Linked DNA regions of Homo sapiens: region 2 is linked to region 1. Evidence: fine-mapped expression QTL. A gene starts in region 1. The other region holds a variant in brackets. All regions are shown on one strand. Distances are from middle to middle.

Evidence for each region.
Region 2: its variant is fine-mapped to the expression of SLC4A2 in whole blood (TOPMed, PIP above 0.99).

The regions. Positions count from the first base shown.
Region 1 is chr7:151,057,187-151,062,559 of GRCh38, forward strand. It overlaps SLC4A2 (solute carrier family 4 member 2), which reads left to right and starts at 2,403. Exons shown (of 23, transcript NM_003040.4): 1 at 2,403-2,576; 2 at 4,739-4,852. The coding sequence starts at 4,802. CDK5 (cyclin dependent kinase 5) reads right to left here and starts at 711. Exons shown (of 12, transcript NM_004935.4): 1 at 626-711. The coding sequence starts at 662. LOC128092247 reads left to right here and starts at 4,742. Exons shown (of 1, transcript NM_001414898.1): 1 at 4,742-4,792. The coding sequence starts at 4,742. The coding sequence ends at 4,792. RefSeq lists enhancers at 1-515, 474-603, 934-983, 1,134-1,413, 1,494-1,543 and 2 more and silencers at 2,277-2,466, 2,507-3,096.
Region 2 is chr7:150,886,084-150,891,456 of GRCh38, forward strand. No RefSeq gene overlaps it. Among named protein-coding and RNA genes, the nearest start is that of AOC1, 36 kb to the left of the region's middle. The variant G/T (reference allele first, on the strand shown) is at 2,998.

The sequences.
Region 1 (5,373 bases):
GTGAGGATGCGGCACTCTTCCCTAAGCCAGGAAATGCCTCCTGAGAGAGGTGAAGGCAGCGTCTCAGTATGCAAGGGAAGGGATTCAGGGTGAAGGTAGGTTGGTGAGCTTTGTGAGTGAGGATGTGGCAGGTGGGGAGGGAGGAGAAGGTGCCCACCGAGGCTCCAGGGGCTCGGCAGGAGGGGCGAGTGCGGTTGCCAGGGCAAGGATGTCTAAAATGAAGGCGGTGCTCCGGAAGGGTCTGGAAATAGTGAGGAGGGGTCTGGGAGAGGACTGAGGGGCTGCAGAAATATTGAGGTTGGAGGTCTGCAGCAAGAAACGAGGCTGGGGGTCGGGGTGAGGTTGTCCAAGTGCTGCTGAGGCTGGGGTGAGAAATTTCAGGAAGTGTCGCGGTTGGGAGGTCGGGTCTACTGGGAACGCTAAGGTTGGAGTGAGAGCCCTGCGGGAAATGCTAACACGGGGAAGACTGGTGTCTGCACGGAGTGCTGAGCTAGGGGGCCAGGGCTGCAGCCGCTGCTGAGATCGGAGCCTGTAGGCATTGCTGACGGTAAGGGAGCCAGGGCTTCAAGGAATGCCGAAGGATCTGCAGAGGAGCTCTTGCAGGAACATCTCGAGATTCCATTACCTTCCCCAATCTTTTCCAGTTTCTCGTATTTCTGCATCGCGGCGGCCGCGGGGACCCCTGCGGGCCCTCGGTTTTAAGACTCTGGCCCCGGCGTTGCAGAGGAGGCGGCACCTGAGCCTCCAGCCCCGCCCCGTCTGCCCGCGCAGGGCCTTCTGGGGCTTGTAGTCCTAAAACGACTAGGTCTCCCCGCAATGCCCGAGACCGAGGACAAGAAGACTACAACCCCCAGCCGTCTGCGCTCACGCTCTCTGCAGCACTCGACTCCAGGGCTCCGTTTCTACCGCGGAGGCAAACCTTGGACTTCAAGTCCCAGGAAGCAACGCGTGTCCGTTTTCCGGGCGCCCCGCCGCGGCGCCGTGGTTCCCAGTGTGCCCCGCTGTTGTTATTCCTTTTATGTGCTCCCAGCCCTCTTGAAAAGGGCCGCTCCGGGACTACGCGTTCCAGAATGCAGCGGAAATGGGGGCGGAGCGCTCTCGGTTAGGGGTTTGGGGTTTGGCGGCCTAGATCCCGGGCACTGGCGGCCCAGCGCTGACCTGGTTGGTGGCATTGTGTTCCCAACGGCCTCTTGACGACCTCAGCACGGGTTTCCACCTCTCCCCAAGCCACCTAGTGACCCCAGAATTGACTGGGGAATGCCTGTGAGCGATGATGACCTCACAGGGAACAGCTGACCGCAGGGCTGGGAGAACAGCTGTGCCCCTTCGAGGCTGGATTTTAGTGGAGGGACACACGCCAAAGACCCCCTCTCTGCTGAGCCCCGTTTGTTGTCTCGGAGCCCACCCGACTCTAGCCGCTGAACTCTGACATGCTGAGGAAAACTGGGTGGAGCCCTGGGGGTCCCCCTCAGACCCCAGTCTCCGGAACAGGGCCCACTGGAGTCAGCCAGGGTGTGGCAGGCAGGTTGGTTAACCCCCTCCACAGACAAGACCACAGACCGATGCTCAACTTGCAGCAGCCTCTGCCTCACCCCTTAAAGGAGCTGATTATAGATTCCCTTACGCTGCCTCTCTAATTGTCTCATGATTGCATTCTTGAGGGCTATGGACCGAGGGAAAAGGATCCCAAACAGCACTCCTCAGCACCGGAACCAGAGTTGCTGCTAAACACGTGTTAATTAACTCGTTTCTATCTGAATGCTTTTGCATACACAAGGGAAAAGAAGCAAAAAGTGTATTCCTTATCTGGAAGACTTTGTGATTTCGTTGGGCAAAAAAGAACTACACACAAAGGTCTTGAATGATAAGTGATGGCTCTGCCTAGGGTTCGGTTCAGTGTGGAGGTTCCATTCAAGAGGAAGGAGGCCAGCACAGCGAATCTCTGTCCCTCTCTGGAAGTGGAGAGCCTCTAACAAGTTACCCTCTCCCAGATCAGCTCAGGGTACCGGGCGGCCAGCCTCCAGCCCCTGTCACCCTTCTCACCCACTCGCCACCCGTCCCTCAGGGGCTTTCTTGGAGGCACGGGGGTTATTGAGGGGGGCAAGAGAATCTCAACCCCGATACGTTTATGTTTCGACTTCCCCGAATTTCCTTGTGCCTGCGTTTTGCTGCCTGGGATCCCTAGCGTGAGAAGGGCTCCTTTACACTCAGAGGTGCCGTAATGGAGCCAAGGGACGGCATCCTCGGGGCTCCCGAGCCCCGAGTGGAGAAGCTTGGGGCAGAGGGACGGCGGGGGCGGCCCCTGGTGCCGGGCTGTGCCTGGAAGCGCGCCCCCGCCCCGGCCCCCGCTCCCGCCTCCCCACCCGCGAAGGCGGGACCGCGCACGGTGCGCCGGGGGGCGCGCACGCAGGGGGCTGGCCTGCCCGCGGCGCGGGGGAAAGTTGAGTTGGGAGAAGTTGGGAGCGGCGGGGGCGCGCCCCGGGGTGGGCACGGGGCAGTCGTCGGGAGCGCGCGAGTGCGCCGGAGGACGGGGAGAGACCCCGAGACCCCCGGGGCACGAAGTCCAGAGCGAGCGGGTAGGCGGAGAGGTGGTGGCGGGGGACGGCCAGGGCCGCAGAGGGAGGAAGGGAGGGGGAAGGAGAGGGGGGAACTCGGGACTCGAGCGGGGAGGGAGTGGAAGTGGAGGAAAGGGCGGAGACTGGGGCGCGGGGAACCGCGGTCTTGGGGAGAAGGATGGGGAGGCGGATGGAGTGCTGGTCGGAAGCGGGCATTCCGGGGTCCCCTTCTCAGAGTTCCCTAAAGCCAGGGTGCCGCGCCCCCTGCCACCAGGAGGGGGTAGTCTCCCCGAGGCGCCGCCGGCCCTCCCACTCCCCGGCTGGCTCCAGACCACCCCTCCCCTCCGGCCCCCCCGCATAGTCCTTCAGTCCCGTCCGGGGCGCCCAGACTGGGGGTTGCCCGGGGCCCCCATCCCCAATCTCCGGGTTGAGAGGCGAAGCCAGGAAAGGCGGGTGGCGGGTAAGGTCGGACAAGGGGTCAGACAGAAGAGGGAGCAGCTGGGTGGGAATGGGAAAGATGAGCCCGGAGAGTTGGACCTGACTCCCGGGGTCGGTTTGTCCAGGCGGGAAGTTCTGTGCTGGGTGTGAGAGGCGGCACTGCCTGAAACCCAGGGTCTACTTTATCCCCCTTCGTTTCCCCCGCCAGCCCCACATGGAAGAGCTGCGGAATTTACGAGTTCACTTGGGGGGTGGTTAATGCCCAAGTGGGGGTCCGAGGTGCTAATCCCTTGGTCAAGGGGAGAGATACTAATCCTCTGGGCCGGTCGGGGCTGGTCCCGGGAATGTGCCCCTACCCGGATTATCGGCACCGATGCTCTGGACAGAAGCTGCTTTGTGTTCTGGGACAGCAGGGGAGGGGGTGCAGAGGAGTGTGGAGGAGCGCGACGAGGGCACAGCCTGAGGTGGGAGTGGGCGCCTGCAGGTGCTCTGGGCGGACTCTCCCCACACCCTTCCCAGACTGGGTGCACTCACGCTCACCCACACCACCCGCCCTGGCTGAAGGCCTGCTGAGGGGGAGGGGAAGAGCGTGGTTAGCCAAGTTGGAGTGCTTGCCAAGAATGTGTTGCCAGGCTCCCCATCCTGGGTGACCCCCCCAGACCTATATTGTTTGACGCTACACTGACTTGTCTTACTCCTAAGTCAGGCACCCCCAGTCCCCAGCAACACACTGGGAGCATGGGTTGTTGGGTACCGTCACTTTTTGCCAGTCTTGGGTGCCCCCTGTGCTGACCCGCTAGGAATGCGCCCCCTATTTGCAGGGATTGGGCTCCCTCCTGCAGCTCCTTCTCTGCCCCCACCACACAGTGTCCTCCCCAGACTCCCTACAGTCACAGTCAGGAGGGTGGCAGCACTGCCACTCAGATTTTCCTGGCTCCAGGCTCTAGAGGGGCGGGATCCAGACTGCCCCTCAGAGGCAGAACCTCAAGGTTGCGGTGCCCACCCCCTCCCAGCCCATCACATGCCCCTCCCCCATTATAAAGCTCTGCCCAGCCCATGCCCACCTTCTGTGCCTTCCTCTCTCTCAGTGAGTGAGTGGAGTTGAGCTCCTGCCCTCCACCCAGCCAGCCTGCTTCCCTCCTGCCGGTCCCCAAGGACCTGGGGGAGGGAAGCCTCCTGCCGGCCTGTACTGGGGAGGGGGCACCCCCTCCCTGCAGGGGCATCTTGGGCTCTCTCCAGAGTTCTTCCATTCGTCTGCTTCCTGTCTCGGCAGCCCGGCCCCGGCTCCACGGGGTGTCTCACCCTCCCCACCACACCCTCTCTGGTCTCAGGCCCACCTCTGGTGGGTGCCCTGACCCTGCGAGGCTCCGTTGTCTGCCTGGGCCTTCACTCCCCTCTTTCCCCAGCTCATTATCACTCCCTCCCTCATCTTTGTTGCTTTCTCTCCGGGCCTGGGCCTTGACTCCTTTCTCCCTCATTTTTCTTGCGGCCTTTCCCACCTCCTCTCTCCTCCTCCCTCTACTCAGCCTCTCGGCCCTTTTCGGCCCCCCTCGCCTCAGTCCTCTCCTGTCTCCTTGTTCTTCTCTTTTCTTCCTATAAATAACTCTCCTCTGTGCTGTGGCTGCCGCTAAGGGCCACTCTGAGGCCCTTCATACTCCAGGAGGATCCCCAGCAGCGCAGCCTGCGCGTGGTGGCTCCTGCCCTCCCAGGGCTCTCGATGGTGATCAGGCCTCTCCCCCATCCAGGTTATGCCTCCGCCTCGTTGCCCTGAAAGCCGCAGCGACAGCGAAAAGGGCTAAGATTCGGCCATGAGCAGCGCCCCTCGGCGCCCCGCCAAGGGCGCAGATTCTTTCTGTACGGTGAGTGTGGCCCCCAGGTCGCCAGCCCAACCTTCCCTCCCTGGGCAGCCTTGGGTGCTCCGGCCAAGGGTCCTCGCCAACCAGGGGTGTGAGCGTGTGTGAGTGTGGAGACTGGGAGGATGCTGCCATCCCTACCCTGACTTTGCATGATGGTCGTAGGGGGGGATGGGTAGTGGGGGTATCAGACGTCTTCCAGTCCTGGGGAGGGAGTTGAGGCTGTTACCTGAAGACCTAGGTAGCTTAGCCTCAGCGGTTGAGGAACTTTGAGAACCCTGGGTCTCTCACCCAGCAACCCGTCTCAGACCCGGCTGGCCTTAGAGGCGCAGGTCAAGTCTGCACGCGGGCCAGGGTTCTGGGCGGAGCTCGCCTGCCACGACTGGCCACGCCCCCTGCCCACGTGCCACCCAGGCCCGCCCCTCCCTGCCCCCACGTGGCCACCGCTCCACATGGCCCCCTTTGGATTTTCCTAAGGAGTCTTAATGATTAACCCCGTGCCACAATCAGCTCCGCTATTGGTCACA
Region 2 (5,373 bases), 170 kb before region 1:
ACCACCACACCCAGCTAATTTTTTGTATTTTAATAGAGACAGGGTTTTACCATGTTGGCCAGGATGGTCTCAATCTCCTGACCTCATGATCCGCCCACCTTGGCCTCCTAAAGTGCCAGGATTACAGGTATGAGCCACCGCACCTGGTTGGATCAACCATTTTCTAGGCCACAAAAGAAGCCTCAATAAATTTCTGAGGGTTAAAATCATATAACATATGTTTTCTGACCACATGAAATAAAAGAAATCAATACAAAAAGAAATTTGAGAAATTCACAATAAGTTGAAATTAAACAACATATTCCCTAAATAACAATGGGTCAAAGAAGAAATCCCAAGAGAAATTAGAAAATCTTTGACATGAATGAAAATGAAGACACAATATATAAGACACAGTATAGGATGCAACTAAAGCAGTGCTTAGAAGAAAATTTATATCTATAAATAACTATGTTAAAAAAGAAGAAATTTTCTATCACTAAACTAACCTTCCACCTTAAAACACTAGAAGAGCAAACTCAGCGTAAAGCAAGCAGAAGAAAAGAAATAATAAAGATTAAAACAGAGATAAAGAGAACAGAAAAAAATAGAGAGCATCAATAATACCAAAAGTTAGTTCTTTGAAAAAAAATCAACAAAATGGACAAATCTTTAGCTAGATTGATGAAAGCTAGAGAGAAAGGCTCAAACTGTCAAAATCAGAAATGAAAAAGGGGACATTACTACATTACTACTGTTATGTGATGAAATGTGTCTCCCCCGATAAAAACAAAACTTATATATTGAAGTCCTAACCCCCAGTTCTTCAGAATGTGACTGTATTTGGACGCAGGACCTTGAAAGAGGTAATTAAGGTAAGTGAGGTAATTTGGGAGGACCTAATCCAAAATAATTGGTGTCCTTATTAAAAAAAAAAAGATTAAGACATAGACAATGCACAGCGTGAAGTTCACAGAGAGGAGATGGTCATCTACAAGCCAAGGAGAGAGGCCTGAGAAGAAATTAATTTCCAAGGACTTAATCTTAGACTTCTAGACTCCAGAATCATGAGAAAATACATTTCTTTCTTTTTTTTTTAGTTGAGACAGAGTCTTGCTCTGTCACCCAGGTTGGAGTGCTGTGGCGTGATCTCAGCTCACTCCAACCTCCGCCTCCCAGGTGTCTCATGCGTCAGTGTGAAGAGACCACCAAACAGGCTTTGTGTGAGTAACAAGGCTGTTTATTTCACCTGGGTGCAGGCGGGCTGAGTCTGAAAAGACAGTCAGCAAAGGGTGGTGGGATTATCATTGGTTCTTATAGGTTTTGGGATAGGAGGTGGAGTTAAGAGCAATGTTTTAGGGGCAGGGATGGATCTCACAAAGTACATTCTCAAGGGTGGGGACAATTACAAAGAAACTTCTTAAGGGTGGGGGAGATTATAAAGAACCTTCTTAAGGGTGGGGGAGATTACAAAGTACATTGATCAATTACGGTGGGGCAGAAACAAATCACAATGGTGGAATGTCATCAGTTAAGGCTATTTTCACTTTTGTGGATCTTCATTTGCTTCAGGCCATCTGGATGTATACGTGCAGGTCACTGGGGATATGATGGCTTAGCTTGGGCTCAGAGGCCTGACACCAGGTTCAAGCAATTCCCCTGCCTCAGCCTCCCAAGTAGCTGGGATTACAGGCATGTGCCACCACACCCAGCTAATTTTTGGGTTTTTTTTTGTTTTTTTTTTTTTGAGTAGAGACAGGATTTCACCATGTTGGCCAGGCTGGTCTCAAACTCCTGACCTCAAGTGATCTGCCCACCTCAGCCTCCCAAAGTGCTAGGATTACAGGCGTGAACCACTGCACCTGGCCAGAAAATAAATTTCTATTGTTTAAGCCACCCAATCTGTGATACTTTGTTATGGAGGTCCTAGCAACTAATGCACCAACTTTTCAGAAATAAAAATGATTATAAAACGATACTCTATGCCAGCAAATTAGACAACTTAGAAGAAATGAACATATTTCTAGAAAGACACTGCCAAGACCAGCTCGGTCGGGGAGACCCTAACCCAGTGGTACTAGAAGAATTAAAGACACACACACAAAAACATAGAGGTATGAAGTGGGAAATCAGGGATCTCATAGCCTTCAGAGCTGAGAACCCCAAACAGAGTTTACCCACGTATTGATTAACAGCAAGCCAGTCATTAGCTTTGTTTCTATAGATATTAGATTAACTAAAAGTATTCCTTATGGGAAACGGGATTAACTAAAGGTATCCCTTATGGGAAAGGAAGGGATGGGTCTGGCTTGTTATCTGCAGCAGGAGCATGTCCCTAAGGCCCAGATCTCTCATGCTATTGTTTGTGGTTTAAGAATGCCTTTAAGCGGTTTTCTGCCCTGGGTGGGCCAGGTGTACCTTGCCCTCATTCTGGTAAACCCACAACCTTCCAGCGTGGGCATTATGGCTATCATGAACATGTCACAGTGCTGCAGACATTTTGTTTATGGCCAGTTTTGGGGCCAGCTTATGGCCAGATTTTGGGGGGCCTGTTCCCAACAGACACAACTACTGAAGGTGACTCAAGAAGAAACAGAAAATCTGAATGGACCTATAACAAGTAAAGAGAATGAATTAGTCATGTTAAATTTCCCACAAAGGAAGGCCCAGATCCAGATGGCTTCAAATGGTGAATTCTACCAAATTCTAAAGTAGAATTAAGATCAATCTTTTACAAACACTTCCAAAAAATAAAAGAGAAGAGAGTATTTCTCAACTTATTCTATGGGGCCAGTATTATCCTACACCAAAACCAGACAAAGACATCACAAGAAATGAAAACTACACATCAATATCTCTTATGAGGCCAGTCACAGTGGCTCATGCCTATATCCCAGCACTTTGGGAGGCCGAGGAGGATCACTTGAGGCCAGGAGTTTGAAGCTGCAGTGAGCTATGATTGCACCATTGCACTCCACCCTGGGTGGCAGAGTGAGACCCTGTCTCTATAAAATATAT[G/T]TATTATATTTTATAATAGATATAAATGTTATATATAGAGAGAGAGATCTTATTAATATAGGTACAAAAATCCTCAACAAAATACCAGCAAACAAAATTCAGCAGTATATAAAAAGGATTACACACCCGGACTAGCTGGGATTTATCCTAGGAATGCAAAGTTGGTTTAACATCCAAAGTTCAACTAATTTAATACATCATATCAGTAGAATAAAGGACAAAACCCACATGATCATTTCAATGGATTCAGTAAAACATTAAGTAAATTCAATACCCTGTCATGATGAAAACACTGAACAAACTAGGAATAGAAGAAACCTTCATCAACCTGATAAAGGGAATCCACCAAAAAAATTCACACACACACACACACACACACACACACACACACACAGCTGAGATCATACTTAATGAGGAAAGACTGAATGCTTTCCTGCTAAGATCAGAAATAAGATAAAAATATCTACTTTTATCACTTCTATTCAACATTGTCCCAGAGGTCCTATTCAGGGAAATTAGGGAAGAAAATTAAATAAGGGCTTTCAGATTGGAAAGGAAGAAGTAAACTATCTCTATTTGCAGAATGCAAGATCAAGATATAAACTGTAGGCTGGGCATAGTGGCTCACGCCTGTAATCCCAGCACTTTGGGAGGCCAAGGCAGTATGATCACTTGAGCCCAGGAGTTTGAGACCAGCCTGGGCAACATAGTGAGCCCCCTCTCTAAAAAATATTTTTTAAATCCAGGCATAGAGGCACATGTCTGTAGTCCCAGCTATTCGGGAAGCTGAGGTGGGAGAATAACTTAATTCAGGAGTTCGAGGCTGCAGTGGACTGTAATTATGCCACTGCACTCCAGCTTGGGTAGCAGAGTGAGACCCTGTCTCTTAAAAGATAAAAATAAAAAATATTGAAATACCTAGAATTAGGGTATGATTTCTTCACTATTACACCAAAAATACAAGCAACTAAAGAAAAAATAGATACATTTGACTTCATCAACATTAAAAATGTTTGCACTTCAAAGGACATTATCAAGAAAGTGAAAGGACAACAACAAGAATGGCAGCAAATATTTATAAATTTATATACCTGGTAAGAGTCTAGTGTCCACCATACACACACACACACACACACACACACACACACCTCAATAATAAAAAGACAACCCAATTAAAGATGGGCAAAGCATTTGAATAGACATTTCTCCAAAGAAGATAAACAAATTGCCAATAAGCACATGAAAAGATGCTCAACATGACCAGTCATTAGAGAAATGCAAACCAAAACCACAGAGCAATGCCATTTCCCATTACTAGGAAGGCTATAATGAAAAAGATAAGACAATAACAAGTGTTGTTAAGAATGTAGAGAAATTAGGCCATGCGCAGGGGCTCGTGCCTGTAATCCCAGCACTTTGGGAGGCCGAGGCGGGCAGATCAACTGAGGTCAGGAGTTCAAGACCAGCCATGACCAACATGGTGAAATCCCGTCTCTACTAAAAATACAAAATTAGCTATGCGTGGTGGTGCATGCCTGTAATCCCAGCTACACAGGAGGCTGAGGCAGGAGAATCGCTTGAACCCGGGAAGCGGAGGTTGCAGTGAGCCGAGATCGTGCCATTGCACTCCAGCCAGAGCAATAAGAGTGAAACTCCATCTCAAAAAAAAAAAAAAAAAAGAATGTAGAGAAGTAGAGAAATTGAAACCTTCATACATGCTGGTGAGAATGTAAAATGGTACCACCTTTTTACTACTTTCTGTAGGTTCGTGATTGCTTAGGGCTGAGGGGACTTGGGGGGAAATTGGGAGTAATTGCCAATGGGTACAGGGTTACTTTGGGGAATGTTAAAAATGTTCTAAAATTCAGATTGTTGCACAACCTCTGTTAATATATTAGAAACCATTGAACTGCACAGGCTAAATGGATGAATTGTAAGGTATGTAAATTATAACTCGATAAATCTGTAAATAGATAGATGATAGATAGATAGATAGATAGATAGATAGATAGATAGATAGACAGACAGACAGATACAACATTTTTTGAGACAGGGCCTCACTCCCACTGTCCAGGCTTGAGTGCAGTGATGCAATCTCAGCTCACTGCAGCCTTAACTTCCCAGGTTCAGGTGATCTTCCCACCTCAGCCTCCCACTGTTATATTTTTAAAAGCAGGGGACGGAGAGGAGGAGGGAGGAAAGCAGAAGGGAAGGTAAGGAGGAAGGAGAAAGGGAGAGAGGGAAGGAGAAGGAAAAGGGAGGGGAGGGGAAGGGAGAGGGATGAGGGTTAATTAATGAGTGGGTGACTTAGCAGGAAGTCCTGATTGACAGGTCAGGCCACTGCAGGAACAATTTATACAGCCAAGAAGTAATTGA